Linked DNA regions of Homo sapiens. The protein of the gene in region 1 purifies or fractionates together with the protein of each later gene. This does not show direct contact. Each region holds a gene or a part of one and is shown on either strand. Other genes may lie near its edges. The genes, in order: ARMC8, LONP1, ZCCHC2, DEK, CHM, NATD1 and MSI2.

Region 1 (4,140 bases):
GAATAGTTGAAATTATTATTCAAAATTGCTGTCATGTAATTACTTAGAGATCCTGGGTACCATCTTTCATGGCACACCTTCGAAGTAGTATTGTTCAGACAGGCCAGGCGCCTTCCTGATAAAAAAGGGCTTTATTTGCTTCAGATTCTTACAGGCAGTAATAGCCCTGCCTTGGAGCTATCCATGGTGCTTGCCTCAGACTCAGCCCATCATTTGCAGCAGCTGGTGCATTCACTTTCCTATTACAGTACCACTCAAGATCTGTCAGACCTGACCTGTCACCCACATTGTGGCCTGTGACAATCACGGCAATATCGCAGGCCACTTCGAATCTGTCTATTCCACTTTGCCTGTGTCCAGACCCACAATCACCTTACTTTGTAGTTTGTTTGGATCTCCAGATAACCTAGCTTTGCATCCCAGGCCTGCTACACAATGCCCTTTCTGTGAACAAAGTACACCTTCTAGGAGATTACTGGCATACTCTGGGTAAAAAATTGTAGCTCTTCAGAAACAATTCCCACACATAATAGCTCACATGAGTTTTAATACCTTATTGCTACAATCTTTACCATTCCAAAATGATTTTAAATGACTTAAAAAAAAATTTTTTTTGAGACGGAGTTTCACTCTTGTTGCCCAAGCTGGAGTGCAAGGGTGCGATCTCAGCTCACTGCAACCTCTGCCTCCCGGGTTCAAGCAATTCTCCTGCCTCAGCCTCCCAAGTAGCTGGGATTACAGGTGTGCGCCACCACACCTGGCTAATTTTTTTTTATTTTTAGTAGAAACGGGGTTTCACCATGTTAGGCTGGTCTCAGACTCCTGACCTCAGATGATCCACCTGCCTCAGTCTCCCAAAGTGCTGGGATTACAGGCGTGAATCACCGTGCCTGGCTTTTGCTACATTTTCTTGACTCACACTGGGACAGGTGAAGAAGTTAATTCTGGAGTGACTTCTGGGTTTCAGGGAATCCAGCAATCTCTAGAAATTATGCAACTATTTAGGCATATGCATGTTCTCCTGGGAAAGCAGGTATTGAGATTCTCATCCTTAAACAGCTAAGAACCAGAGATCAATACACTGATGATGCCAAAATAATGATCATGACCCCAGATTTAGGTACTCAACCTTTTTTTCCAACTGACTACAAATTTGGCATGTCCAAAATGAAACTCATTTTCCTACTTACTCCCCTAACAAATTCCTCTCCTAATTCTCACCGTCTCAGAAGATGATACCACCTGGCCAAAAAGGCATAAATCCTGTGAATCATGCTTTATCATAATGATCATCATGACTCTTTCCTTTTCCTTAGTCTCCCTTATCCCATCAATCACCATTAGCTTTCTGAAAGCCTAAGAAATTCTTAAAAACACCCCTAAGGCAAAAGAAGCATGTGTTCGATAATTACTTTCCAGGTGGTAAAGACCTCCCAATATTAATAGATCTTATAGGTTGAAAACTCCCCATTGGACCACAACTTTTTATTTTTAATATAAAGCCTTACACTGTTTCATCATTCCTCCTTCCTCTAATACCTACATTATGAATATGCTAGAAAATGTAACTCTTCATTCCTCTGAAATTAGGGAATGTGGTCAAAACAGTTTTTTTTTTTTTTTTCAACAAAATGACAAGTGGTGGGGCAGGGGGCTATTTCTGTAAAACTGCTCTTATTTGCAATACCTTTAATTTCTATCTCAACAGTCCCAGGGATCATAGCACTACTGTTCAGTGAAGGCAGCTGCTCTCCAATTTCTAGAGGATAATAGGAGCTTTGTTTTTTTTCATGTAATACCGTCTCTTTACCCAGAAGCCAACAGGACAGATGGTACTGCAAAACAAATGCCAAATCAGAATTGAAAAACATACAAGTCAGAATCACTGACATTCCTGTCTGCTGACAGTAAGTATTTTAAAATTTAGCGAAAATAGGAGGTGATAAGAAGGCTAGGTCTCAAAAGTAAAATCTGAAGACCCTACATAAATGTGTTTCTGATTCTTTGCAGAGTTTAAAAGACTTCCTGAACATGCACTATCTTAGTCTTTCCTTAAATACACAGCAAGATGTCCAGAAACATACAATGAGCACCTCTCATTTTTCACACACTGCCATTAAAGATTAGAAAGTTCACATTGATTCATTGATGAATTTATTTTTATTTTTTTGAGATAGTTTCTTTTTTTTTTTTTTTTTGAGACGGAGTCTCGCTCTGTCGCCCAGGCCGGACTGCGGACTGCAGTGGCGCAATCTCGGCTCACTGCAAGCTCCACTTCCCGGGTTCACGCCATTCTCCTGCCTCAGCCTCCCGAGTAGCTGGGACTACAGGCGCCTGCAACCATGCCTGGCTAATTTTTTTGTATTTTTTAGTAGAGACGGGGTTTCACCATGTTGGTCAGGCTGATCTCGAACTCCTGATCTCAGGTGATCCACCTGCCCAAGCCTCCCAAAATGCTAGGATTACAGGTGTGAGCCACTGCACCTGGCGATTTACTGATGAATTTATTTTAGGACCACCTACTGACATACCCTGTACTTATTAGTGCTTTGTAAACTAATGGCAAACTTTAAAATGTGCTGTACAGATTTTATTTTGCATTTATTACTAAAAACCTAGGGAGGCCAAATTTATGTTTACAGGATAGTGGGTTCGACTTCACAGCAATTTTTTTTCCTAATTATTGCCAGTTATGGATGTAAGAGAATAAATCATTAAGTAGCTATAGGCAAGGCCAACAATATGCTTATAACTGTAGAGAACAGAACAAAATGAAGGAATATCCAGATTTGGAATACCCTATACAGTTCTAACAGCTATTTTTCAAAAAAAAAAAAATAATGACAGCTGGGCACGGTGGCTCACGCCTGTAATCCCAGCACTTTGGGAGGCCAAGGTGGGCAGATCACGAGGTCAGGAGATCGAGACCATCCTGGCTAACACAGTGAAACCCCTTCTCTACTAAAAATACAAAAAAATTAGCTGGGTGTGGTGGCAGGTGCCTGTAGTCCCAGCTACTCGGGAGGCTGAGGCAGGAGAATGGTGTGAACCTGGGAGGCGGAGGTTGCAGTGACCCGAGATCGCGCCACTGCACTCCAGCCTGGGCGACAGAGACTCCGTCTCAAAAAAAAAAAAAAAAAAGCTGGGCGCAGTGGCTTACGCCTGTAATCCCAGCATTTTGGGAGGCCGCGGCGGGCGGATCACGAGGTCAGGAGATCGAGACCATACTGGCTAACACAGTGAAACCCTGTCTCTACTAAAAAATACAAAAAATTAGCCGGGCGTGGCAGTGGGTGCCTGTAGTCCCAGCTACTCGGGAGGCTGAGGCAGGAGAATGGCATGAACCCAGGAGGCGGAGGTTGCAGTGAGCTGAGGTCGCGCCACTGCACTCCAGCCTGGGAGACAGAGCGAGACGCCGTCTCAAAAAAAAAAAAAAGACGTAATGCCACTGGGAAAGGACTGTAAAGAAGACAATTAAAAATCAACAAGTGCCCAGCTGTTTATAATAGCCTACAAAGTGATTCAAAGACAATTTGTTACCTTACCTCTCTACCATTACAAAGTGACCAAAATTAAATGCAACCATCCTTTTAACAGGGTCTTTCACAGAGCGTAAGTTTTCATTTTGGTAAAGTCCAATTTATCAATTTTTTAATAAGTAATGCATTTGGTGTTATGTCTAAAAGTTATTCACCAAACCTAAGGTTCTGCAGATTTTCTCCTGTTTTATTCTAAAAGTTTTATTTTATGATAAAATCTATGATCCATTTTGAGTTACTTTTTGTATAAGGTATGAGATCAAGGTTCATCTTAAATTGTGGTTAAGAGGATGAAAAGGCAAGTTACAGATTAGGAGAAAATATTTGCAAATACCTATCTTACAAAGGGTTCAGATTTAAAACATATAAAGAGCTTTTGGCTGGGCACGGTGGCTCACGCCTATGATCTCAACACTTGGGGAGGCCAAGGTGGGCAGATCACCTGAGGCCAGGAGATTGAGACCAGCCTGGCCAACATGGCGAAACCCCATCTTTACTAAAAATACACACAAAAAATTAGCTGGGCGCGGTGGCACACGCCTGTAATCTGAGCTACTTGGGAGGCAGAGGCCCGAGAATCTCTTGAGCCTGGGAGGCAGAG
Region 2 (4,140 bases), on another chromosome or scaffold:
GACTTCATGTGTCTCTAAACTCCAGCATCCGTGTGGCCCAGCTGGCCTGTCCCGGTGCGTCTCGTATGCCCGTTGGGTGGCAGTGCGCCCTGACGGTGTCTGCTCGTGGGGCCGCCTGGCCCTTCCTCGGAAGCCGTCCTCCTCTTCATCCTCTTCCCCAATCCTGCCGTGTGCTCTTGCAGCCCTCACTGACTTGCTCCTGGCCCATAGTGGCCGCTGCTCACTGCTGCACGGCTCCCAACTTGGGGACCAATATGGAGTTGCCCTCCCAACCTTCAGCGTCACTCTCCCGGCAGGGGACCTGGCCTCCATTTCCCCACCTGCCCTGGGTCAGGCCTTGTCCCATTTTCTAAGCCTCGTCCCCTCTGTGGTTCTGCTCACTCAGCCCTGGGCAGAAGCCAGTGCCGTCTTGGCTCTCCTGATGAGTCAGCAGTGGACCTCCGGCCATCTCCTCCTTCCTGCACTGGGTGCTTTGGACAGGGCAGTTTGTAAATTTTTTTTTTTTTTTTTTTTTGAGATGGAGTCTCACTCTGTTGCCCAGGCTGGAGTGCAGTGGCACGATCTCGGCTCACTGCAAGCTCCGCCTCTCGGGTTCATGCCATTCTCCTGCCTCAGCCTCCCGAGTAGCTGGAACTACAGGTGTCCGCTGCCACGCCCAGCTAATTTTTTTTTTTTTTTTTATTGATCATTCTTGGGTGTTTCTCGCAGAGGGGGATTTGGCAGGGTCATAGGACAATAGTGGAGGGAGGGTCAGCAGATAAACAAGTGAACAAGGGTCTCTGGTTTTCCTAGGCAGAGGACCCTGCGGCCTTCCGCAGTGTTTGTGTCCCTGGGTACTTGAGATTAGGGAGTGGTGATGACTCTTAACCAGCATGCTGCCTTCAAGCATCTGTTTAACAAAGCACATCTTGCACCGCCCTTAATCCATTTAACCCTGAGTGGACACAGCACATGTTTCAGAGAGCACAGGGTTGGGGGTAAGGTCACCGATCAACAGGATCCCAAGGCAGAAGAATTTTTCTTAGTACAGAACAAAATGAAAAGTCTCTCATGTCTACTTCTTTCTACACAGACACGGCAACCATCCGATTTCTCAATCCTTTCCCCCTTTTCTATTCCACAAAACTGCCATTGTCATCATGGCCCGTTCTCAATGAGCTGTTGGGTACACCTCCCAGATGGGGCGGCTGGCCGGGCGGGGGGCTGACCCCCACTCCTCCCTCCCAGAGGGGGCGGCTGGCCAGGCAGAGGGGCTCCTCACTTCCCAGTAGGGGCGGCCGGGCAGAGGCGCCCCTCACCTCCCGGACGGGGCGGCTGGCCGGGCGGGGGGCTGACCCCCCCACCTCCCTCCCGGACGGGGCGGCTGGCTGGGCGGGGGGCTGACGCCTCCACCTCCCTCCCGGATGGGGCAGCTGGCCTGGTGGGGGGCTGACCCCCCCCCCAACCTCCCTCCCAGACGGGGCGGCTAGCCGGGCGGGGGGCTGACCCCCACTCCTCCCTCCCGGAGGGGGCGGCTGGCCGGGCAGAGGGGCTCCTCACTTCCCAGTAGGGGCGGCCGGGCAGAGGCGCCCCTCACCTCCCGGACGGGGCGGCTGGCCGGGTGGGGGGCTGACCCCCCCACCTCCCTCCCGGACGGGGTGGCTGCTGGGCGGAGACGCTCCTCACTTCTCAGACGGGTCGGTTGCCAGGCAGAGGGTCTCCTCACTTCTCAGGGCTGCCGGGCAGAGACGCTCTTCCCCTCCCAGACGGGGTCGCGGCCGGGCAGAGGCGCTCCTCATATCCCAGACAGGGCGGCGGGGCAGAGGCGCTCCCCACATCTCAGATGATGGGCGGCCGGGCAGAGACGCTCCTCACCTTCCAGACTGGGCAGCCAGGCAGAGGGGCTCCTCACATCCCAGACGATGGGCGGCCAGGCAGAGACGCTCCTCACTTCCCAGACAGGGTGGCGGCCGGGCAGAGGCTGCAATCTCGGCACTTTGGGAGGCTAAGGCAGGCGGCTGGGAGGTGGAGGTTGTAGCGAGCCGAGATCACGCCACTGCACTCCAGCCTGGGCACCATTGAGCACTGAGTGAACGAGACTCCGTCTGCAATCCCGGCACCTCGGGAGGCCGAGGCCGGCGGACCACTCGCGGTTAGGACCTGGAGACCAGCCCGGCCAACACAGTGAAACCCCGTCTCCACCAAAAAAATAGGAAAACCAGTCAGGCGTGGCGGCGCGCGCCTGCAATCGCAGGCACTCGGCAGGCTCAGGCAGGAGAACCAGGCAGGGAGGTTGCAGTGAGCCAAGATGGCAGCACACAGTCCAGCCTCGGCTCGGCATCAGAGGGAGACCATGGAAAGAGGGAAAGGGGAGACCGTGGAAAGGGGAGAGGCAGAGGGCAGAGGCAGAGGCAGAAGCATTTTTTGTATTTTTAGTAGAGACAGGGTTTCACCGTGCTAGCCAGGATGGTCTCGATCTCCTGACCTTGTGATCCGCCTGCCTCGGCCTCCCAAAATTCTGGGATTACAGGCGTGAGCCACTGTGCCTGGCCTGTAAATTGTTTTATAGAGATGGGGTCTTGCTGAGTTGCTCAGGCTGGTCTTGAACTCCTGGGCTCAAGTGATCCTCCCACCTGGGCCTCCCAAAGAGCTGGGATTACAGGCGTGAGCCACCGCGCTCAGCCCCACACATGGGTTTCAAGCCCCTTGCAACCACCCAGCCAAGTCCAGCAGAGAGACAGGCAGCTCGTGAGCTCCACTCAGCATCTCTCCATCTGTCCCCTGGCAGTGTCACCCGCAACTACCTAGACTGGCTCACGTCCATCCCTTGGGGCAAGTACAGCAACGAGAACCTGGACCTGGCGCGGGCACAGGCAGTGCTGGAGGAAGACCACTACGGCATGGAGGACGTCAAGAAACGCATCCTGGTGAGCCCAGTGTCTGGCCTGTTGTGGATTTGCATGTGGGTGCCCGGGCCCAGGACTCTTGTGTGCTGTGGGTTGAGATTTCAAAGGAGCCCCCTGGTGAATTCGTAGGCCTGGGGGTGCTGGTCGGGGGGATCCCGGCGGAGGTAGCATCCTGCCCTGCCCCCGAGGGCTCGAGGATTTCCCAGGTGGACTGAAGTCATGCCTGACGGGCCGGGCATGGTGGGGCTGCTTGTAGTCCCAGTTACTCAGGAGGCTGAGGCGGGAGGATCACTTGAGCCCAGGAAGTTGAGGCTGTGGTGAGCTGTGATCATGCCACTGCACATCAGGTTGGGTGACAGAGTGAGACCCCCATCTCTACAAAAAATTTTAAAATTGCGGCTGGGCGCTGTGGCTCATGCCTGTAATCCCAGCACTTTGGGAGGCTGAGGCATGCAGATCACCTGAGGTCGGGAGTTGAAGACCAGCCTGACCAACATGGAGAAACCCCATCTATACTAAAAATACAAAATTAGTTAGGCGTGGTGGCGCATGCCTGTAATCCCAGCTACTTGGGAGGCTGAGGCAGGAGAATCGCTTGAACCCAGGAGCCAGAGGTTGCAGTGAGCCCAGATCGTGCCATTGCACTCCAGCCTGGGCAACAAGAGTGAAACTCCGTCTCAAAAAGGAAAAAAAATTTTTTTTAATTAGCCTGGTGTGATGTTGCGTGTCTGCAGTCCCAGCTACTTGGGAGGCTGAGGTGGGAGGACTGCTTGAGCCCGGGAGGTGGAGGCTGCAGTGAGCTGTGATGCACCACTACACTCCAGCCTGGGTGACAGAGCGAGACCTTGTCTGAAAATTAATTAATTTTAAATTAATTTTTAAAATATCACTCCTGAGACATTGGAAACCAGGCAGGCAGGTGGGAGTCAAAGGTTAAAAAACAGGAGTCAGAGCCTGGGCATGGTGGCTCACACCTGTAATCCCAGCACTTGGGGAGGCCGAGGCGGGTGGATCACAAGGTCAGGAGTTCGAGACCAGCCTGACCAACATGGTGAAACCTCGCCTCTACTAAAAATACAAAAAAAGTAGCCAGGCATGGTGACTCACACCTGTAATCCCAGCTACTCAGGAGGCTGAGGCAGGAGAATTGCTTGAACCCAGGAGGCTGAGGTTGCAGTGAGATGAGATCGCACCAGTACACTCTAGCCTGGGCCACAGAGCAAGACTCCATCTCAAAAAAAAAAAAAAAAAAAAC
Region 3 (4,140 bases), on another chromosome or scaffold:
AATGCAATATTTGACAGTAGCTTTATTTTTATCACCTGCATATATTAATATTTTGAACCAAAAGAGTAAAACCCAGAATTAAAAATATAAAGAAAACTAACTAAAAAAATACTATGTTGTATACTATCATAAACTAAACAGGCCTATTATCAAAGGCTATATGCTGTCTTTCCTTAAATTGAACCTACTTTTCTGTTTGTGGCTTTCCTTTCTTCTTATTTATTGAAGATAAACTCCGTTTTTCAGCAGAATGCTAGTAGAAAGAATAAAAAGACAAATCAGACAAAAGCTAAACCATTTTGACGTTTTTACTCTCATAATAAACATTAAAATGATAGATTCCCAGTTGTATATTCTAACAAGTGTTGATTTCCAACCTATTTTTGAAGTTTCCCACCTGAACCACTAAAATTTACATATTCTGTGACACTTACATATTTTCCTCATGATTAATACAGTATTATTTTCTATTTTTCTTTGAAAATGGACCTACATTCTTTTTTCTGACTATAAAATGAAACACAATCAAGTGACTGGCACTTGCTGTAGGTTTACTACTATTCTCTTCAAGTACAATTCCATATAACTGTCAACACTTAACTACGTCAACTCTAAGAAGAGAGGGTGCAGGCACTGGAGTAGGGGAGGGAAAGTAAACTCAGACGGGCTTTGAAAATAGGTCACTAATTATGACTAAAACTATTTATAATTTCTCAGAATATGCTTTAATGCATAAAAACACATTCCAAGAAGAGTTAACATTTGGATCTGAGCGTTGGCCAGGGACAACATCGGGTTAATGAATCAATTTTCTAGAGAGAAGTTTCATTCCATACTTGTAACATATACACAGGGACCTCCCCCCATATCTGCGAGGCCATACGACATGAAACATACTTAACAGCATTCTGCTCTCTGATCACACCCAAATCTTAAGAAAGCAAACATCCCCTAATGCATTCTGAAGTGTCAATAAACTGACCCAAATATTCATGAAGAAAGGTCAGTTGGAAAATTTCTATCACAAATAGCAAGGCAGTGATTGAAATCTGAATTCTAATTCTTTCAAGACCAAAAAATTTTGGCATAACAATCTGATGTACACCTTTGTTAAACAGTGAAGGTATTATTTTTAAAATTTTTATTTTGTTTTAAATTTATTTTTTAGAGACAGGGTTTCACTCTGTTGCCCAGGCAGAAGTACAGTGGTGTGATCATGGCTCACAGCAGCCTTGAACTCCTGGGCTCAGGTGATCCTCCTGCCTCAGCCTCCCGAGTAGCTGAGACTACAGGTGTGTACCACCACACTCAGCTAATTTTTAAATTTTTTATACAGACAGGGTTTCAGTATGTTGCCGAGGCTGGTCAAATGGGTGGCCTCAAGCAATCCTCCTGCCTTAGCTTCCCAAAGTGCTGGGATTAGAAGCGTGACCCATGGCGCCTGGGAAGGTGTCATATTAAAGTGTACTAATCTTACACAAGCAATAAAAGTAATCTAAATACACATTTTCAGGTCTCAGAAGAGCTTAGATCATATATAAGTATAAAGTCTAAAACTTAAACATTCCTTCATTTCTTACCAGATATACTGTCTGACTGAAAGCTTACAGAACTTAATTTTTTTCTTATAGAGGAGCAATGCTTTAACTATATAGCTCCAAAACAAACTCCCCACACACCTGGTCAGCCGAGGTCACACAGTGCTCTGGGTGTTGAATGGTGGTACAGCTTTGCTTCCTCCAATCCACAATTCCATTCTGTTCAGAATATTGCATGGTAAGCCCATCCAATGGAGAACAACTTGTACCAATATTGCTACCAAAGAAAAGTTTATGAAAGTGTGAAAATCTGCCCTCAATAATAACCTATTTCATTTCAACAAAGAAGTTACAGTAACCCTTTCTTCAATATATTAGTTTCTTCAAGGAATGCCTAATGATAGGTCTAAGAAAAAAAAGTATACTATGAGAAATAAACCACTACACATCTATTTATCATTAATACTTGTCTCTAAAAAGAGTAGTAACAGCTGCACACTCTGCTTTTAGACACTATGCGATGGTGATCATCATACACTGCTTACAGCTGGGACAGAGAGGCTTATACAACCTGCATCTTGAGAGCACTGCTGTCATGAGCACTTAAGTAACTGGGCACATGAAGGAACAGGATAATGAGATCAAAAACCAAAAGAAACAGACAAGAGAAATAGGCCCCAGCAGAATTCAGATGATAAACTTATTGGACACAGACTTTCAGGTAACAGTGCTTAACATGGTTGACAAATACAATACTGAGGATTTTGGAAGAGAAATTTGGAAAAGAAAAAAAAAGTAAATTATAGAACTTATAAAATAAACTAATATTACAAACTCAACAAATGGGAAATAGATGGAGAAAATTAGTGAAGGGGAAACAGATGAAGAAAATCAATGAAGAAAAAATTGGTCGGAAGAAAACAGATTAAAGCACTGAGACTGAAAAAAATGTGAAAAACAAAAAAGGCTTAAAAGACATGGGACGGCTGGGCACGGTGGCTCACACCTATAATCCCAGCACTTTGGGAGGCTGAGGTGGGTGGATCACCTGAGGTCAGCAGTTCGAGACCATCCTGGCCAACATAGTGAAACTCCGTCTCTACTAAAAATACAAAAAAAAAATTAGCCAGGCATGGTGGCGGGTGCCTGTAGTTCCAGCTACTTGGGAGGCTGAGGCAGGAGAATCGCTTGAACCCAGGAGGCAGAGGTTGCAGCGAGCTGAGACTGCGCCACTGCACTCCAGCCTGGGTGACAGAGCGAGACTCCATCTCAAAAAACAAAAACAAAAACAAAAAAAACCACGGGACATGGTGAAAAATCTAACATACAAGGATTTGGAGTCTTGGAAGACGGAGCAAGAGAAAAGCGGAGAAGAAATATTTGAAGAAGTAAAAAGCTAGTTTTCTAAAATCAGAAGACATCAAGCTACAGATTCAAGAATTCATGCAAAGGAAGCTAGGAAAACTGCTGAAAACCAGACAACAACAAAACCTTAAAAGTAATCAGAGGGAAATGCGTATTATCTTCAAAAGAGCAGCAGTAAGACCGATTGAAACTCTGGATGCCAGATGACTTAAGTGTGAGTTCCTCTCAAAATCAGAGTCCAGCATAACAGAGTTTATTTGGGAAGTGATCCCAAAAAGCAGGAGCAAGGGAGTGGAGAGGATGAAATGGCGAAGGACTGCAATGAAGAGTCCACAGTGGAGGCTGGAAGCATCAGGAGCTCCGAGCTTCTGGGCCCTCCCAGAATGACAGACCCAAAAAGGATGGAGGCAGACTCCTGTGTGAGCAGCAAAGGCCCTAAGGCGGAACATGGAAAGTCACGGCTCATACTTGAGGAGCACAGCGCTAATGTGGTATGAGTAAGAAATCACAGACGGTTTTATGGGATCTGCAGGAGAAACTGGAGGTGAGTGGAGAGAATAAGATGCAAGGAAATAAAGGGAGAACCAGATGATAAGGAAACTATGCTCTCAAAAGCTCACGGAAAGTAACTGCCCAATTAGAAGTCCACATGTGGCAAGAGTATCTTGTAAAAATGAAGGCAAAATAAACATTTTTTCCAGATAAAAATTTGAGTGCATTCATCACTGGCCGATGTGACTATAGGAAATACTCAAGTGTTCTTCAGTTGGAAGGAAAATGATCATAGGTGGATGCTCAGAGACACAGGAAGGAATGAGTACACAAACACTACAAAGAGGTTTCATGGAATTTAAAATTATACAGAGAATTAAAATGCATGACAGCCACGGCTTACAAGTTAGGGGGAAATAAATGATGTTGCAGTAATCTAAGGTCCTCAAATTGTTTGGGACCAGTACAAGCACAAATATCCAACTTTAATAAGTCAAAGATATGTAATATTATCTCTAGGGTAGCCACTAGAAGAACTTTCATTGTAAAACTATCAAAGATGATAGGGGAAAACAAAACAAAACAAAACAAAAAAAAACCACAGAAGAAAAACAACCCAAAAGGAGGCAAAAAAAGTGAGAAAAGGAAACAGAAAAAGTGAAGAAATAAAAAGCAAATAGCAAAATGACAGAATTATAGCCAAATACATCAGAAATTTAATTAAATGTTACATTGATTTTAAAAC
Region 4 (4,140 bases), on another chromosome or scaffold:
GAAAAAAAAGGGGGGGAAACAATTTCTCAGTCCAAATTTTATTTTACATTTTATAAAATCTGTCAAGTACTAGCAAAGGTAGCAAAAAAATCCCTCTAATAAAATATGATATAGCTTTTATATTGTGTGATTTCATACACCTAATGTCTGAAAGCATTTTTACATTTTCTTCTCCCATGGATTTTCATCAATTGACCTGGGTTTCTAGTCACAGACCCTAGATTAGGGCACTACAGAAGGTAAAGGTTTGATTTATAGTGAGATGGTTCCACTTGTGATTATTATCCTGGAACCAATATGGGTATAAATCAGGTATCATCTGCATACACCAAGTTCAACTACCTCTACAGAACTATGGGACAACAATTTAGAAAGCGAATTTTAAAAGTGAGTATAAAATGCTCTCGTTTTTTTTTTTTGAGACGGAGTTTCGCTCGTTGCTCAGGCTGGAGAACAATGGTGCGATCTCAGCTCACTGCAACCTCTGCCTCCCCGGTTCAAGCAATTCTCCTGCCTCAGCCTTCCCGAGTAGCTGGGATTATCGGCATGCACCACCACGCCCAGCTAATTTTGTATTTTTAGTAGAGGCAGGGTTTCACCATGTTGGTGAGGCTGGTCTCGAACTCCTGACCTCAGGTGATCCACCCACCTCGGCCTCCCAAAGTGCTGGGATTACAGGCATGGGTCACCATGCCCGGCCTGCCCTCACTTTTTAACCTGCACCTAGTAATGACAAGAAGATTCGATTTAGAAGTTTTACTTGTCATAAAACATCATTTTAATTCTAATAATAATAGCAACTAATACTTACATACTATATGCACCAGGCACCGCTCTAAGTATTTTAAATAAAATCCTTTAATATGACCCTATGAGGCTAATACTATTATCACTCCCCATTTTACAGATGGGAAACTGAGGTATAGTTTAAATAACTTGCTTATACTAATACAGTAATAATCCAATATAGAGGTCAGATTTGAACTCAGTTTCCAGAGCCCATGCTAACGTCTCTATGAAAAAATTAGACATTTATATTCTATGATAATGTTTCGTGCTTTAACTCTGCCCATAAAGAGAGTTTAGGAATCTGAATGGCACACAGTAGACACCAAATATTTCCTGAATGAAGATACTATCAGTTTAAAAATTTCCACTGTTATATATATACATACAAACAAACATGTTTTCCTCCCGGATATCCAATCCATAAAGACCTTAATGCTCAGATTACTTATTTTCCTTTGTGCCAAATATATATTAAGATATTTATGAAGCACCTACTAGATTCGTAACCCTCTTTCTTAAATGATGAAGCATTTCATACTTAGCTTTATAGAAGTCTTTATAAAATTTGACGCTAAAACAAGCATGAATTGTAAATAACTCAAGACAAACATACATACTAAACACCCACACATATCATATAATACCAGAGTTCACTATATCTTTATTCCTTCTAATTCAGTGGAGATGATTCCCTCCTTGTCTCGCCCCAGGGACATTTGACAATGTCTGAAGAACATTTTTGGTTGTCACAAGGGGAGCTTGGGAATATCACCCACAATTAAGAATCATCTGGTCCAAAATGTCAAGTTGACATTATCCAAGTCCCTAAATAAGGCAAGGTTGATTACCCAATCTATAGAGCAAGTTCCAACCTTTGAACGAAAACATCAAAGTTAAAATACAGTCTACCAAAACATCATTAACAATAATAGAAACCCATCTCCTGTACCCACTCTCCATGATCTACCTGACTGAAGAGGTTAACCCTCTTATTTAACTGCTTCAGCAGTTCTCTTCTTCATGAAGTTTCACTTTGGAAACTAAGAGTCTCAACTTTTACAAATACTCCCAAATAAAAGAAAATGACAGGTAATACAAAATTTATCCACTCATTATATAAACTTCAAATGCTGTTTATTCTCACTACATAGTCCCCTAAAGGTTGAGGGGGGGAAAAAGGCCCTTAAGTCCCTTGCTTTTTCCGTAAAATAAAATGATCCAAGTCAATTATAAAGTATCAATATATTACGAAAAAAATCCTCGAAGAATCTGCTCCTATGTGGTCCTATTCAGGATATGCACCACTTCCGCTTCCCTTCCCATTTATCTACTCTAGTCTTCAACGTCCAGCTCAAGGCCCACTTCAAATCCAGTCCACACCAACCTCACTCTTTTCTGACTCATACTCTGACATGGTAATGAAACTAAAAGCTCTTTAAGGAAAAGAAATGGGTTCATACTTAATCATTTCTGCATCTTCAGAATTAAAAACAACCAATAAGGAAGTGTTTTCTGGCTGTACCTTATAGCAGAAATATTTAACTCTCCCCATGGAAAGAAATGATTTAAAAATATAGTAAAATATTTTACCTCCTCTTCACTTTCTTTATCTTCATCATCTGAAGACTCTTCCTTGTTTTTCTTTTCATCTTCATCACTACTAGATTCATCTGACAGAATTTCAGGACATTTGGTTCGCTTAGCCTTCCTTGCCATTCCAGAACTGTTCCGTTCCTTTTTACTGCCTTTGCTACAAGTTTTTTTAGATTTCGGCAATGGCTGCATAAAAATTTATAAAGATAACACCAATGAGGTATAATATTTCAATCAATTCTCTTCTTGAAAACTTATCAACTCAATTTCTTATTCCTCTCTCAAGAAATTGTATTTACAAGCCCAGCAGCTTTGCAGAGAATAATCTTTAACCGTGTCAGGTTAACCTAAAACTGTGTTACTAATACCATTTGTGTTCTAAACACCTAGCAAGACCCTTCTCAATTGTAGAGAAATATGTATTCTAGGTTCTGACATGGGACTAGAAGCTCAAGACACATTATGTTAAGCTCCAACGGCTGTTAATACTTTGTCATGATAATATTTTAAGTTAGATTTGTAATTTATTTCATCCCTACAAGCATTAAAACTGTCACTGCCAACCCAGCACTTTGGGACGCCGAGGCGGGCAGATCATGAGGTCAGGAGATCGAGACCATCCTGGCTAACACGGTGAAACCCCGTCTCTACTAAAAATACAAAAAATTAGCCGGGCGTGGTGGCGGGCGCCTGTAGCCCCAGCTACTCGGGAGGCTGAGGCAGGAGAAAGGCGTGAACCCAGGAGGCAGAGTTTGCAGTGAGCCGAGATCGCGCCACTGCAGTCCAGCCTGGGCAACAGTGTGAGACTCCGTCTCAAAAAAACACAAAAAGCAAAAAACAAAAAACTGTCACTGCCAAAGAAGCTCCTTGCTTTAGAAGGCCCAACACTCCAATCGAAGGAATGGGAGAAAAACCTTTTTTTTTTTTTTTTTTTTTTTTTTTTGAGACAGAGTCTCATTCTGTTGTGCAGTAGCTGGGATTACAAGTATGCACCATCACGCCCAGCTAATTTTTGTATTTTTAGTAGAGACAGTGTTTCACCATGTTGGCCAGGCTGGTCTCAAACTCCTGACCTCAAGTGATCCACCCACCCTGGCCTCCCAAAGTCCTGGGATACAGGCATGAGCCACCACGCCTGGCCCATAAAAAAAATGTATAACTTTATTACCAATTATACATCCTGAATTTATGAATGAACTATACGGTTTATATTCATTACTTCTGGCCTCTACTTTCAACAATGTCAGGCTCATATTATCACTGATGCCTATAAGTATACAATAAATGATAAGTATGTTAATTATGAAACTAAGAATATGCTGCTATTATTCTGATAATCAATTAAACCATGTATATTAAAAGCAGAGATCACCTGATGAAAATGAGTTGATTACAGTAAACAATAAATTTAATTTTTAAGTGCTTTCTCAAGGAAGTTTTGCTAAATTCTAAAATTGAAAACCATAAAATTACCTAACATCAAGAATGTTAAAATGCGCATTACAGAATTAATATTTATTTCTGGGATTGAGCATCTTTTATATTCTTTTATTTCTACCTTTGTTACTTTATTTTCTGCAATAAGCAGAAACATTAAGGTAAAATTCCATAACATAACCTTAAGGTATCCAATTGTGTAAATGTTTGTGATAACTTTAGGCAATATTTTTCTTGCAGAGACTAGAACGACAGGTCCTTTACCTCCCAGGAACCTCCAGTCTAGGGGTCACTGTCACCTACACAAAAATTAAGAAAAAG
Region 5 (4,140 bases), on another chromosome or scaffold:
GCCACTACGCCTGGATAATTTTTGTATTTTTAGTACAGACAGGGTTTCACTGTGTTGGTTGGGCTGGTCTTGAACTCCTGACCTCAGGTGATCCACTTGCCTAGGCCTCCCAAAGTCCTGGAATTACAGGTGTGAGCCACTGTGCCCAGCCTAATTTTTACTTAATTTTCTTAACACAAATATTTCTATTGTAATTTAAGTGACCAAAATGATCTTTTCACAGCAAAGTATACCCCAGGCCAGTGCTCTTCAAACTTAACATAAAATTTAATTTGTGATAAGGAGAATAGTTTCTGTGTTCAGAACATATTTTACTAATGTGCCACATGACCTTTACTGCATTACTCATAAAACTGTGAGTCTAAAATAGATGATGAAAGAGAATAAGTATTCATTTCAAAAATGTTATAAAAATGATACAAAAAACCCTTCCCCTTTATATAAAATCCTATCATGAAAATCATTTTACAAAAAATAGAAATAAAAACTTTTCAGCTTTATAAACTATTTTTTTTAATGAGCGGGACCTTGGACCAAAAAAGGTATTATCATATCCATCCTATCAATTAAGATGCATGATGTATCCATTGTAAGCACTAACAGTTGTTGAAGACTGTAGGAAACAAAAGAATAGTCAACCAAAAGAAAAAAAGCTCCATAAACAGGACAATGAGTCCCATATTTGATCTTGAAAATTTAATTTGGAAGAACACTAAAAAAGACACAAAATGGCAAACCCCAGCACATGCACAAGTATTTCAGTGGGAAATTATGTACCTTGGGATTGTGAAAGGAAAACAAATCTCCCCAAAATCACTAAACCAAAAGGAAAAGTCAAGTTGGGAATTGTGTTGGGCAAACCTCTCTCCCTTTCTATTCCTAAATAAGATCACTACAAAGATTTTTAAAAAGCTACATACCTCCCTCACAATTTGCCCATAAGGAAATTCCTTGTGGACAACCAAAGGACAGGCAGAACTCAAAGTCATTCCTCTGTTCCCATGAGACAAATGCGTATCTGATGGCTTCCTCCGCCCTACTGTTTCACTACAGACTAAGGCATAAGTGACTATTCCTCATTTGTCTCTTAACTAACTATGACCCAGAAGCCTCCTCCCCACTTCGAGTTGTCTGGCCTTTCCTGATGGAACCAATGAATTATACATCTTACAAACGTTGATTAATGTTTCATGTCTCCCTAAAACATGTAAAATCAAGCTGTGCCCCTACCGCCTGGGGCACGTCATCAGGACCTGAGGCTGTGCCACAGGTGCATCCTTAACCTTGGTAAAATAAACTTTCTAAATTAATTTGGTAATCTAAATTATTTTGGTTTACAGGATCAATGAAGAATTCCTACTGAAGCAAATCATTTCTTAAAATGTAACTGTAATCTCTGATCCCATTTCTGGCCATTGCTTTAGTGGTTGATTCTCTCTTCAGTTTTAAGGGATAAACACAACCAGGTCATTCCGTTCACCTTCATCAAAAGAAGGTTTGCAAGCTGACACAGATGTCATGATGCTGTCAATAATAAGAAGCTGACATCATGAGGTTACTGCTGGAATCAGGATTTTAATGTCAACAATGATAACTCTCCAAAATAAAACAACTGCCAACCACAAACCCAGGTTAAAATAATCTCATCTTGATACTATGAGCTATTTTTTCAATTGAAAGATTCTAGCAAACTTAATCTAATACCTCAACCTTAGTCAGAAAAACTTTCGTCTTAACTGTTTCACCTACATCAAACTTAGCTGAGCCTCAGGCTTCACATTTGAAAAATGGAGATGATATAGTATCTACTGCAGGGTTACTGTGAAAATGAGACAATGCATTGTAGGGGCTTATCACCGTGCTTGGCATATAACAAATGTTAGACAATATTTTTCATGTGTTTGACAGTGTGTTGTAGGTACTAAAAACAATTTTCTAATTATCATTGATTTTGCTTACATAGCTTAAACCAAAGTAACACAGGTGTAGAAAATAAGGATTTGAACTCACAGCTCAGCATCTTCTTAATATGCCTCATATCCATGTGTAAAACTTTTTCTCTATACTTTAGCTTGTGTAAATTTTCTCATGATGATTTTAAATCCACATAAATAAGACTAGTTTAACAAATGTGCAAAGTCAGATCACAGAAACATGATTCAAAACATTTCAAAGCAATATAAAATGATTAAAACCACCATTAACTAGTAGCCATAATAACTCAATGAGAACACTGGCCTAGACCAAAAAAAAAAAAAAAAAAAAGACAGGTGAGAATACTCAAAAGAAAGAGTAGAAGTTAGTGAGTGACAGGGACAGGAGGCAGGGAAATTCTAGGCAGAAAAGGGCAGGTCCCTGAGAAAACCCCACCCTCAAGCCTGAAACCATGACGCAAAGTGAGAACTTATATCCCCATTTTCCCGTGCGAATGTTGCCTTTTCCGAAACCACTTACGGCCCACCCCACACCCCATCCTGTGTACATAAAAACCCCAGGCTCAGCCAGCAGAGAGAAGAGAAGCAGTTGGACATTAGAGACTACAGCTGGACATCAGAGAGAAGTGGCTCGACTTCAGAGGGACACCTTGACAGCGTAACTTCGAAGAAGAATCTGGCCAGAGACAGCTGGCATTCAGGGGAAGACTACCTTCCTGCCCTTTGCAGCTCCCCTTCCCACTAAGAGCCATCTCCATCAGCAATAAGATCCCCTACATTTACCATCCTTCAATTCATTCATGTGACCTCATTTCTCCTGGATGCCGGACAAGAGCTCGGGAACGATGAGTGTGGACACAAAAAGGCTGTCACACTTGCCCTTTGCCCTCACTGGTAGAAGGCAGCCGATTAACACAAAAAGGCAGAGGGCCCACTGAGCTGTTAACCCTTAAGCCGTCTGCGGACAGCAGAGCTAAAAGAGCACTGTAACATTCCCTCTGGAGCTTCAGGGGTTGCAGGCACCACCCCCGGAGATGCTACCACAGGGCCAGCACAGAGTTGACTCCTGCCAGTGCCCAAAAGCACTCGCCCCGGCTCCTGCACCCACTCAACTGCACATCCCCTCTTGTGAGGGGTGAAACACAGCAGGTCCGAGTGAGTGGAGTTCATTCCTCCTGGCACAAGAGCGGCAGGCTGACTCCAGCACTCATGTATTCCAGTTCCTGCCTTGTTCACTCACGTGCTCCCTCCTATGAGGAGTTGAAAGCGGTGGGCTGAGTAAACAGGGTGCTCCCTTCACAAGTCCCATGAAGGGGTCAGGAAAATATCCTGCTTCACCAGTACTTTTTAAAATGTGATAAAAACCAAATCAGTCAAGGAATACATTACCAACTTCAGCTCCTGATAAAATCCAGTATGAGATGAAACACTTATTTAAGCACCATACTGGCCAAGCTGCCTCTGGTCTCTTCTCCTGTCTGTTTGCAAACTGTTCTTTTCAAAAACACCCTCAATATGATAACATGCTAGCTCTCATAATCATGCTCTAAAAAAGCAGTATCTGTGATAAATTATCAACTCTTTTTACACCAAACCTTAAATGAAATTATTAGAAAAGCAAAAACAAAACATCAACCTTTCAATGTATCCCTATTTTGCTGGCCACAACTAAACGCCCCCAAAATGTTTCCAATGAGCACCAACAGTGATTTTTAGCCTATTTTACTTTTAAATATATTTATATACAGAACAGGCACAGACTAACTTTTTAGTTAAAGAATGCACTGAGACTGAATAGCAGATGATTTAGCATGAGTTAACAGGTCAATTATATGGAATTATAATTGTTTCTGTGCATTGGGATTTTATGTTAAACATGAGAATGTAATGGTGGGCTGCCATATTTGAATTTAATTACTGTAGCCTGTTATCCAAAACATCATGAAAACACTGGAGAAAATGAGAAAAATGACATGAGGCATGGGAGATGAAAATGATGCTGCAGAGGAAATTATGGCAACAGATGTGGCTCTCTCTGAGGTATTGGCTCAAATTCATGATTTACAGAGAAGGGTAAGCATCTCCCAGAGAGTCTTCTCCAGAGTTAGATAACTCTTTACTTTTCTAGGTATTGGAAGCAAACAAAAACATACTTTTCCATCAATAAATGCCTGAAGAAGTGCAAAGCATTTTTCAGAACAGCAAA
Region 6 (4,140 bases), on another chromosome or scaffold:
ACACGCTTGGGCCACCACCGCTTCTGTCCTGCTGTCTCCTGGGAGCCACAGCCTGAGGTGCAGGCCTGGCTGTGGGAAGGCCAGCATGCTGGTCCAGCCAGTTGTCCACAGGTCTGCCACAAGGCCCTAGTGTGTGTCTGGCAAAGACAGAAAGCAGTTGTTTTAGTTGGACAAACATTTCTTGGGTGTCTACGCCGAGCTGGGTGCCTGGAATATGGTAGTGGCTGAGCTGTGCGATCACTGAGGGTCAATGGGAGGCAGAGAAGTTCTGAGGACTCCCAGGGTCAGGTCCATCCATGGCCCAGGTGGCTACTCCAGAAACACTGACGCAGGGTGTGCACAGAGGAGTAGTAATGAGCTTGCCAGGCTTCTTGTATCCACCTCCCTGCTCTGCAGAGACTGCTGGAGCAAAAGCTGAGGTTTTTTTGGTGGCTTGCAGGGCCCTGTGTGGTCTGGCCCCAGGATCTCTGACTTGGTTTCCCAACCCTCACTCCCGGCTTGTTTGGGCCCAGCCACTCTGGCCTCCTTGCTCTTCCTTCAACCTCCTACCCCAGGGCCTTTGCACGTGCTGTTCTCACCAGTGGGCGGCTCATACCCCACATGTCCTTTGGGGTCCTTGTATGCCCTCTTTACAGTGGCAGCCCTGCCCCTCCCCACCCCTCCTCTGCTGTATAGTGATCCTTGGCACCTGTCAGCTTATCACCTGTGTGGCCTCTGTGATGTATGTATTTATTTAGAGACAGGGTCTCACTCTGTCACCCAGGCTGGAATGCAGTGATAACAATCATATCTCACTACAGCCCCAAACTCCTGGGCTCAAGTGATTCTCCCGCCTCAGCCTCCCAAATAGCCGGGACCATAGGTGTGTACCACCATGCTCAGCTTTTTTTTTTTTTTTCTTTTTTTTTTGAGATGGAGTTTTGCCCTTGTTGCCCAGCCTGGAGTGCAATGATGCGGTCTCAGCTCACTGCAACCTCTGCCTCCCGGGTTCAAGTGATTCTCCTGCCTCAGCCTCCCAAGTAGCTGGGATTACAAGCACCCGCTACCATTTCTGGCTAATTTTTGTATCTTTAGTAGAGATGGGGTTTCACCATGTTGGCCAGGCTGGTCTCGAACTCCTGAACTCAGGTGATCCACCCACCTCGGCCTCCCAAAGTGCTGGGATTATAGGAGTGGGTCACCGTGCCTGGCCCCTGTATTATTTATAATGATATTACTTATTGTGTGTCTTCATCAGTACGTAAGATCTCCATGAGGAAGAGTTTCATCAGTTTTGTTCGCTGCTGCCTGCCCTGCAGCCCAAACCCTACTGGGACACAGTAGGCCCTCAATGAGCCTGGGGTAATTAAATGGCCAGGCTAGGTAGGCAGCTCCCTTGGTGACGGAGTCAGTCCCAGAATAGCCTCCGATCTCTGCTCTCCTGTCCTGGGTGAGTTGAATTAACCCCAGCAGGTGGGGAGCCAAGAACCACATCCCTTGCTGTGCAGCCAGGACAGGCGGCAGTGGCCACAGCTGGGCCTTGGCCAGGGTGGCAGGCATAGTCCACAGAAGGACAGTCAGGCCCACAAGGAGGAGGCAGCAGGGCTGGTGTGGGGGCGGGGCTGCAGGCATGAGGGGAGTGGGGCTGGGGAACCCTCAGCTGGGCCTGGCAGGAACGGAGAAAGGGCATCAGGCAGAGGGAAGTGCCTAGGCGATGGCGGGTGCAGGAAGTAGCAGGTGTGTCGGTGGAGCAGAAAGAATGGCTGTGGCTCAGGACCTGCAGGCCTGGGCTCCAGCGTCATCTTGGCCTGCTGTGTGACTTGGATCCCTGCATCTCAGTAGTTCCTCATCTGGAAATGGGGAGATGAATTGTAGCCACTCTCCTGAGGCTTTGGGGAGAATCAAAGGAGATACCAAGAGCCAGAAGGCCTCCTTGCTGCCGTTGGCCCCAGTTCCGGTGGCCCTGGACTAGTGGTTGGACCTCTTGGCCTGTCAGCCTTCCCCTCGTGTTGCCCAGCACAGGCTTTAAGGGCAGATTTTCTGGGGCTTTGAAGTTAAAACTCATGAAACACAGCATGATTTTAAAGAGTGAATCACATCTGTCCCTTTGCTGAGGGCCTTCTAGTGGCGCCCAGCTCAGAAGGCTTAGGAGGCTCTGCAGGACCTGCCCTATCACCTCCCTGCCCCCATCTCTGCCCTTCCCCTCACCCACCCCACTCCAGCGGCCCCTCATTCAGGCCTACTCCTGCCTCAGAGCCTTTGCACTGGCTGTTCCCTCTGCCCAGAACACTGTTCCCTCAGAATGGCTGGTGCCCTCTCCTTCCTGTCTTCACCTGCCCCCATTCCCTGGCATCCTACACATCACTTGCTTTTCATGTTTATTCTCTTTCTCCCCTTCCGGTTTCATGGGGGTAGGACTCCATGTCTAGCTTGTTTGTTGCTATACTCCCAGCATCTGAAACAGTACCTGGGGCTCAGGAAACATTTGGTGGATGGATAAGTGGATGGGTGGGTTGATGGATGGGTAGGTGGAGAGACAAATAGATGAGACACTAAAAACTGTGATTAGGAAAAAGTTCAGTTAATTGTTTGCCCAGCAGCAGTTTGGGGTGGACTGGTGAGCTCCAGGCTTGGCAGGCCTGGTGGAGTGTGAAAACCCGTTTGTTCCTGCCTCCTGTGCCCAGCGTCAGTTTCTCATGAACTCTACCACAGGCCTCTGATCTTTCCTGCTGCGTCTCTCTCAGGGTCCAGCAGGTGGTCCTGATGCGTGGCGCAGCGCTGCCTCTCTAATCTCTTCATGCTCTGCCTTAGTTGCAGATTTGCTGAGCCCTGTTCTGTGTCCAGTGCTGGGTTCTGGGACTCCCAGATCCAGGGATGTGGTGGGGTGGGGATGCAGGGAGCAGGGCTACAGAAAGGGGTGGCAGGGCCCTGGGATGCTAGGACTGACGCAGTAGCAAAGGTTCATGTGGGGCTCAAGTGTTCTAGGCATGGCTGTAAGCACGTCACAGAGGTTACCTCATTTAATCCTCCAAACCACCCTATGAAGGACATTTTATTGTACCTCCACTTTATGGATGAGGAGACTGAGGCACTGAGAGGTTATTCAGGATTCAGCTGTAGCAGCTGAATGACTCCAAATGCCTGTCCCTCCACCCGTCTTGGTGCCTGAGTCCGCTGGGATGGGAGTCAGCATAGGCTTACCTGTCTCCACAACCCCCAGGATGTCATGACCGGGCCGTCCTGCTCTATGAGTACGTGGGCAAGCGGATCGTGGACCTGCAGCACACCGAGGTCCCAGATGCCTACCGTGGGCGTGGCATCGCCAAGCACCTTGCCAAGGTAGGGCAGGCAGGTGGCAGGGCCAAGCGGGGACGGGGACATGGGGGCTGCCACCTTCGCTCCGAGGAGACGGTGGCCCTGGTGGCCACTTCAGCCTGCTTCTTGGCCCTGGGTCCTCTCTGGGCCAGTGGCCGCCTTTCTGGGCCCAGGCTCCTGTTCTGCAAGACCCTGGCGTGGCTGAGCCTCCAAGATCCTCACACACCTCCTGTGTGGCAGGTGCTTCACAGGAGCCCCATTCCTGCCCCCAACCCCTTCATCCTCAGGGCATCCCAAACCCCAGGCTGCCTGGAGAGCAGGTTTGGGCTTAATGAAGGGAGTTACAGCCAGAGCAAAGAATGACCGTCACTCCCCTGAGGGCTGCTGCTGGGACTTAGCTGGGCCGTCTGCCGGCTTCCCCTCCTCCACCCCCACCCCGCCAGGAGAATTGCAGGGCAACCTTTGTCCTCCATGCTGCCTGGGGCAAGGGGGCTTGTAGGGGAGAGGTGATGTGTTTTTTCCTTGTGTACCGGACCAGTCTGTGGGGATCATCCCAGGTGACACTGAAACTCAAGGGAGTTACTGACCTGGGCAAAGTGGAAGGGTGGCCAGGGAGCCGGGCCTGGGGAGGCAGCAGACAATGCTACCTTCTGGTGCCGGCTGCAGGCCCTGACCACTCTCCTCTCTGCCCGGCTCCCAGGCCGCCCTGGACTTCGTGGTGGAGGAGGACCTGAAGGCCCATCTCACCTGCTGGTACATCCAGAAGTACGTCAAGGAGAACCCCCTGCCGCAGTACCTGGAGCGCCTGCAGCCGTAACCCTGGCCTGCAGGCGGGAGCGCTCCCTG
Region 7 (4,140 bases), on another chromosome or scaffold:
ATATGCAACTCAATTTCTCTAAAAGCCAGGAGAAATCATTTTTAGTCAGAACAAACACACTTTGTCTTTCATCTTTTTTTTTTTTTTGGCAAATAAAGAGTAAAACAGGCTATTTAAAACATCCATTTAAATGCAAATTTTGATATCCCAAGAGAAAAATGTTAATCATTTAAATAGACAGGATTATCGCCCACCCTTACCACTTCCCTCCTCTCCCAAGTTTTAGAAAACGTAGCCTTAGCCCACACAAGTCAAGTCAGCCAGGAGTCCTTACATCTTAAGAACTCCCACTCAGATGAGAGGGCTGAGGCAGATAGAGGGGGACTTTTCCTTCTTTTGAGGAAGGAGATGGAAAAGAGAGAAAATAGTCTAACATATCCTATAAGCCAGGCATGGGGCAATATTATAAATACAAACACACACACACACACACACACATGCATGCACACACACACACCCACACTTAATCATCACAACTGTCTTGGAACGGGGAATTATCATCCTCATCTACAGACAAGGAAACTGAGGCTTAGAAAGGTGAAGCAGTTTGCCCCACTGGTAGGTGACCCAGTTGGGAGTAGAGGCCTCCATAGCCCTCCCAGTCCATGGTGACCTGCGGTCCTGTCCAGACTCACCCAGCATCCCCATGCCAAGCATGAACGCGTCCATGGTGTAAGGCAGTCCCCGGGCCCGGCCTCTTGTCCCAGGTGGGAACATGACTTCTTTCGGCTGAGCTTTCTTACATTCTACCTGTTAAACAGAAAGGCGAACAAATGAGATGCAAATGAATTCCACGTAAATGTCAAATGCAGAACCTGTCTGGTTATGAGCTAAGTTATTTTTAGCCTTGCTCCTTACCCACTGTAAAAATAGCCATGCCGAGTAAATGGCCTGCAAAATAAATACTTAAGAAAACACGCCACTTGTGCAAATCCTGCTTCGGAAAAACCTACAAGGATGAAACTGGGTTCTGGAGGGGTGGCAAGGACGTAAGCTGCAGATATACACACAGATTGAAGCTCAGGCTGACGCTCGTGCAGAAAGCATGACAGATAAGGAGGCAGACAATGGCTGTTGGATGTGTCTGTGAATAATAACAACAATAGCAATAATAATAATCCCTCAGGATTTTTCAGCCCTTTACACATTTACAAATGCCCCTGACATTCTCTCAGGCCAGTGACTCTTCATGCCAGGCCATCTGATTCAAACTCTTATTAAACAGACAGACCACTTAGCCTTAGCTCCAGTTCACAGATGAGAAAACAGAGCATCAGAAGTTTTGTGTTGGCTGGGCGTGGGGGATCATGTTTGTAATCCCAGCACTGTGGGAGGTGGAGGCAGGTGAATCAGCTTGAGCCCAGGCGTTTCAGATCAGCCTGGCAACATGGTGAAACCCCGTCTGTACTAAAAAAATACAAAAAACTAGGCAGGTGTGGTGGCACACACCTGTAGTCCCAGCTACCTGGGAGGCTGAGGTAGGGGGATCACCTGAGTCTGGGAGGTCAAGGCTGCAGTGAGCCATGATCACGCCACTGCACTCCAGCCTGGGTGACACAGCGAGACCCTGTCTTAAAAAAAAAAAAAAAAAAAAATTCTTGTGCAACATGCTGAAAGCCCTCCCCAACAGGTTCAGGCCTACAAACCAGATCTTTAGAATTTCTAGGTCAGCAATGCCACATTTCCACAAAACCTACACCACCACCACACTCCTGAGGGAAGTAATAAGATTAAACACTGATTCTGTTCATCTGGATTACTAGTTTCTCATTTGCAGCTACATTTTCAAGTGGTTGCTAATCTCCCCTTTCTGTTTCCCTTCTGACTCTCAAATTTCTTCATGCTAATCTGCTTGTATACCCAGAGGTCACTTATTTAATAACCTTAACTATGCGAACTATAAACCTCAGGGAATAAGTAAAACTGTGGCCCTCGGAAGCTCCTTCACTGTTTTACCAGAGCGCCTTAGGCCTGTGCTTATTAGCACTTATTTGCTTTTTGTTTACAGAGAAATTTAACAAGCATTGTTAGCCAGTCATCAATCCCACTGCTGATGAAGATGGGATGTTGCAGGGTAAGGCACGGATGCTTTTAACAGCCAAAAGAAACAGCATGGCCGCCTGATAGTGACGGAGAAAAGACAAGAAACAGGTATCTTATTTAAATGACGGAGAAAAGACAAGAAACAGGTATCTTATTTAAAGAGCAGTCTGGGCCATATGGTATAGGAACAAAAGCTCTACATAGTTCAACAGCTGCTGAGGTATCACTGTAACACAGAAAATTGCTATTGTTCACAGGTGTGCCTGAGATAGCAAGAAAAAGTTAAACTGTGTGCAATATACATTGTTTAAACAGAGACCTCTAGGCCGGACGTGGTGGCTCACACCTGTAATCCCAACACTTTGGGAGGCTAAGGCAGGCAGACTGCTTGAGTCCAGGAGTTCGAGACCAGCCTGGCTATCGTGGCAAAACCCTGTCTCTACTAAAAATACAAAAAAATTAGCCAGGTGTGGTGGCATGCTCCTGTAATCCCAGCTACTTGGGAGGCTAAGGCAGAAGAATCGCTTGAACCCGGGAGGTGGAGGGTGTAGTGAGCCGAGATCGCACCACTGTACTCCAGCCTGGGCGACAGAGCGAGACTCTATCTCAAAAAATAAAAAAAATAAATAAAACGAAAATAAAAAAGGAACCTCTATGGGTTATCCATTTTGGAGATACTCACATCCCAAATACTTCAATCAAAAAATATTTTAGTGCTCAAGGTTAGGGGGATGCTATAATTACCTAAGATATAAGTCACCTTTCTTCAAAGACACCGGACAACAGGTATTACTCTTGCTCTTTCAAGAATAACCACAAATGCCTTAAAAAGTGGACAAAATGGTTCAACATTCATGACTAATATGCTTAATACAGAGTTCTATAGATTAAAAGAGATGAGCATCCCAAAACAGACATGGGTAAAAGACAGGAGTAGACAATTCACAGACGGCTAATAAAGAACACATTCCCCAAGATGAAGCATATTTTTTGCCCACAGATTGACAGTGATGAAAGCATTGTTTGATGTAAGGGTTTCTGACGGTATAGTGTGGAGGGGTGGAAATTGGCACGTATTTTTCTGGAGGGCAACCAGACACTACATCAAAAGCCATAAATTTATACATACACCTAGTAATCTTACCTCTAGGAATTTGCCCTACCGGAATTAGAATTTTTTTTTTTAATAAAAGGAAATACCTAAAATATAGAAGAACAGGGAATTAGCTGAGTTTGGATTATCCACACTGATTGAATGCTATGCAGCTATGAAAAAGTGTGTTGATAATAATCATGCACTGGTACTGGGAAACCCCTCAGTCCCAGGCAAACCAGGATGATGGGTTTCTTTAACTGCAAGCGGGAAAACAGCAAATGTCACTGACTTTTTGAAAAATAAACAAGTGCATATATCATATAGGGAAAAATACTGAAAAGACATACTAAAGTTGTCTTAGAATCACTCTGTTTTTAAATTTTAATTGGGCATTTTGCTAGTTATTTTCTAAGCTTTCTGCTAAGCAACAGGGAGCAGGTTTTTGTAAGATAATGCAATAGACTGTCACTGATAGGGCTATTAGAATATTGTCATTGCAGGTAGGGGGGAAAGGTGATTGAAAACAACAAACTCATCCAAATTGGCTCTTTTAGGTTTCTCTCCTAAGCCCAGGGGTGAAAACTGGCTTCAGGACTCCAGAGGAGCAGGCTGAGAAATCTCATTTGCATGAACCTGCCCCAAGCCTAGGAAGATGGGCGTGTCTCGCACAGGCAGACAGATAATTACCCAAAGCCAACACCAGCAAGGGGAATAATACCGCTAACCAGCTCACTTCCTAATAGCCCTATCGGTGACAATCTACTGCATTGTCTTATGAAAACCTGCTGCCTGTTCCTAGGCAACCCGATCAACGGAAATCTCAGGTTTATACAATTTTCATTTAGGGAACATAAAGGTTAACTGACTGTAATGGGAGTGTTTTAAACAAACCCACCTACTCTTCCTCTCACTGAACAGGGCTGACAGCTCTGTTTAATTCTGCTCTGTCTTTGCTGCTGGTGGTTTGGGCAGCAATGACTGTCTGAGTGCCAACCACCTGC

The links.
Region 2: the proteins of ARMC8 (region 1) and LONP1 purify together in Homo sapiens (affinity purification with mass spectrometry; 2 studies listed by BioGRID and IntAct, with this or other methods). This does not show direct contact.
Region 3: the proteins of ARMC8 (region 1) and ZCCHC2 purify together in Homo sapiens (affinity purification with mass spectrometry; 2 studies listed by BioGRID and IntAct, with this or other methods). This does not show direct contact.
Region 4: the proteins of ARMC8 (region 1) and DEK purify together in Homo sapiens (affinity purification with mass spectrometry, with the first as the bait; one large-scale study listed by BioGRID). This does not show direct contact.
Region 5: the proteins of ARMC8 (region 1) and CHM purify together in Homo sapiens (co-immunoprecipitation; one large-scale study listed by IntAct). This does not show direct contact.
Region 6: the proteins of ARMC8 (region 1) and NATD1 purify together in Homo sapiens (affinity purification with mass spectrometry; one large-scale study listed by BioGRID and IntAct). This does not show direct contact.
Region 7: the proteins of ARMC8 (region 1) and MSI2 purify together in Homo sapiens (affinity purification with mass spectrometry, with the first as the bait; one large-scale study listed by BioGRID). This does not show direct contact.

What each region holds. Positions count from the first base shown.
Region 1 is NC_000003.12:138,193,343-138,197,482, reverse strand, and holds part of ARMC8 (armadillo repeat-containing protein 8), read right to left. Parts: intron 1-4,140. UniProt on the Homo sapiens protein: Component of the CTLH E3 ubiquitin-protein ligase complex that selectively accepts ubiquitin from UBE2H and mediates ubiquitination and subsequent proteasomal degradation of the transcription factor HBP1.
Region 2 is NC_000019.10:5,699,555-5,703,694, reverse strand, and holds part of LONP1 (lon protease homolog, mitochondrial isoform 1 precursor), read left to right. Parts: intron 1-2,767; coding exon 2,768-2,906; intron 2,907-4,140. UniProt on the Homo sapiens protein: ATP-dependent serine protease that mediates the selective degradation of misfolded, unassembled or oxidatively damaged polypeptides as well as certain short-lived regulatory proteins in the mitochondrial matrix.
Region 3 is NC_000018.10:62,560,684-62,564,823, reverse strand, and holds part of ZCCHC2 (zinc finger CCHC domain-containing protein 2), read right to left. Parts: intron 1,816-4,140; coding exon 1,680-1,815; intron 254-1,679; coding exon 189-253; intron 1-188.
Region 4 is NC_000006.12:18,247,272-18,251,411, forward strand, and holds part of DEK (protein DEK), read right to left. Parts: intron 2,569-4,140; coding exon 2,380-2,568; intron 1-2,379. UniProt on the Homo sapiens protein: Involved in chromatin organization.
Region 5 is NC_000023.11:86,037,266-86,041,405, forward strand, and holds part of CHM (rab proteins geranylgeranyltransferase component A 1), read right to left. Parts: intron 1-4,140. UniProt on the Homo sapiens protein: Substrate-binding subunit of the Rab geranylgeranyltransferase (GGTase) complex.
Region 6 is NC_000017.11:21,243,284-21,247,423, reverse strand, and holds part of NATD1 (protein NATD1), read left to right. Parts: intron 1-3,199; coding exon 3,200-3,318; intron 3,319-3,994; coding exon 3,995-4,111; 3' UTR 4,112-4,140.
Region 7 is NC_000017.11:57,612,580-57,616,719, reverse strand, and holds part of MSI2 (RNA-binding protein Musashi homolog 2), read right to left. Parts: intron 751-4,140; coding exon 636-750; intron 1-635.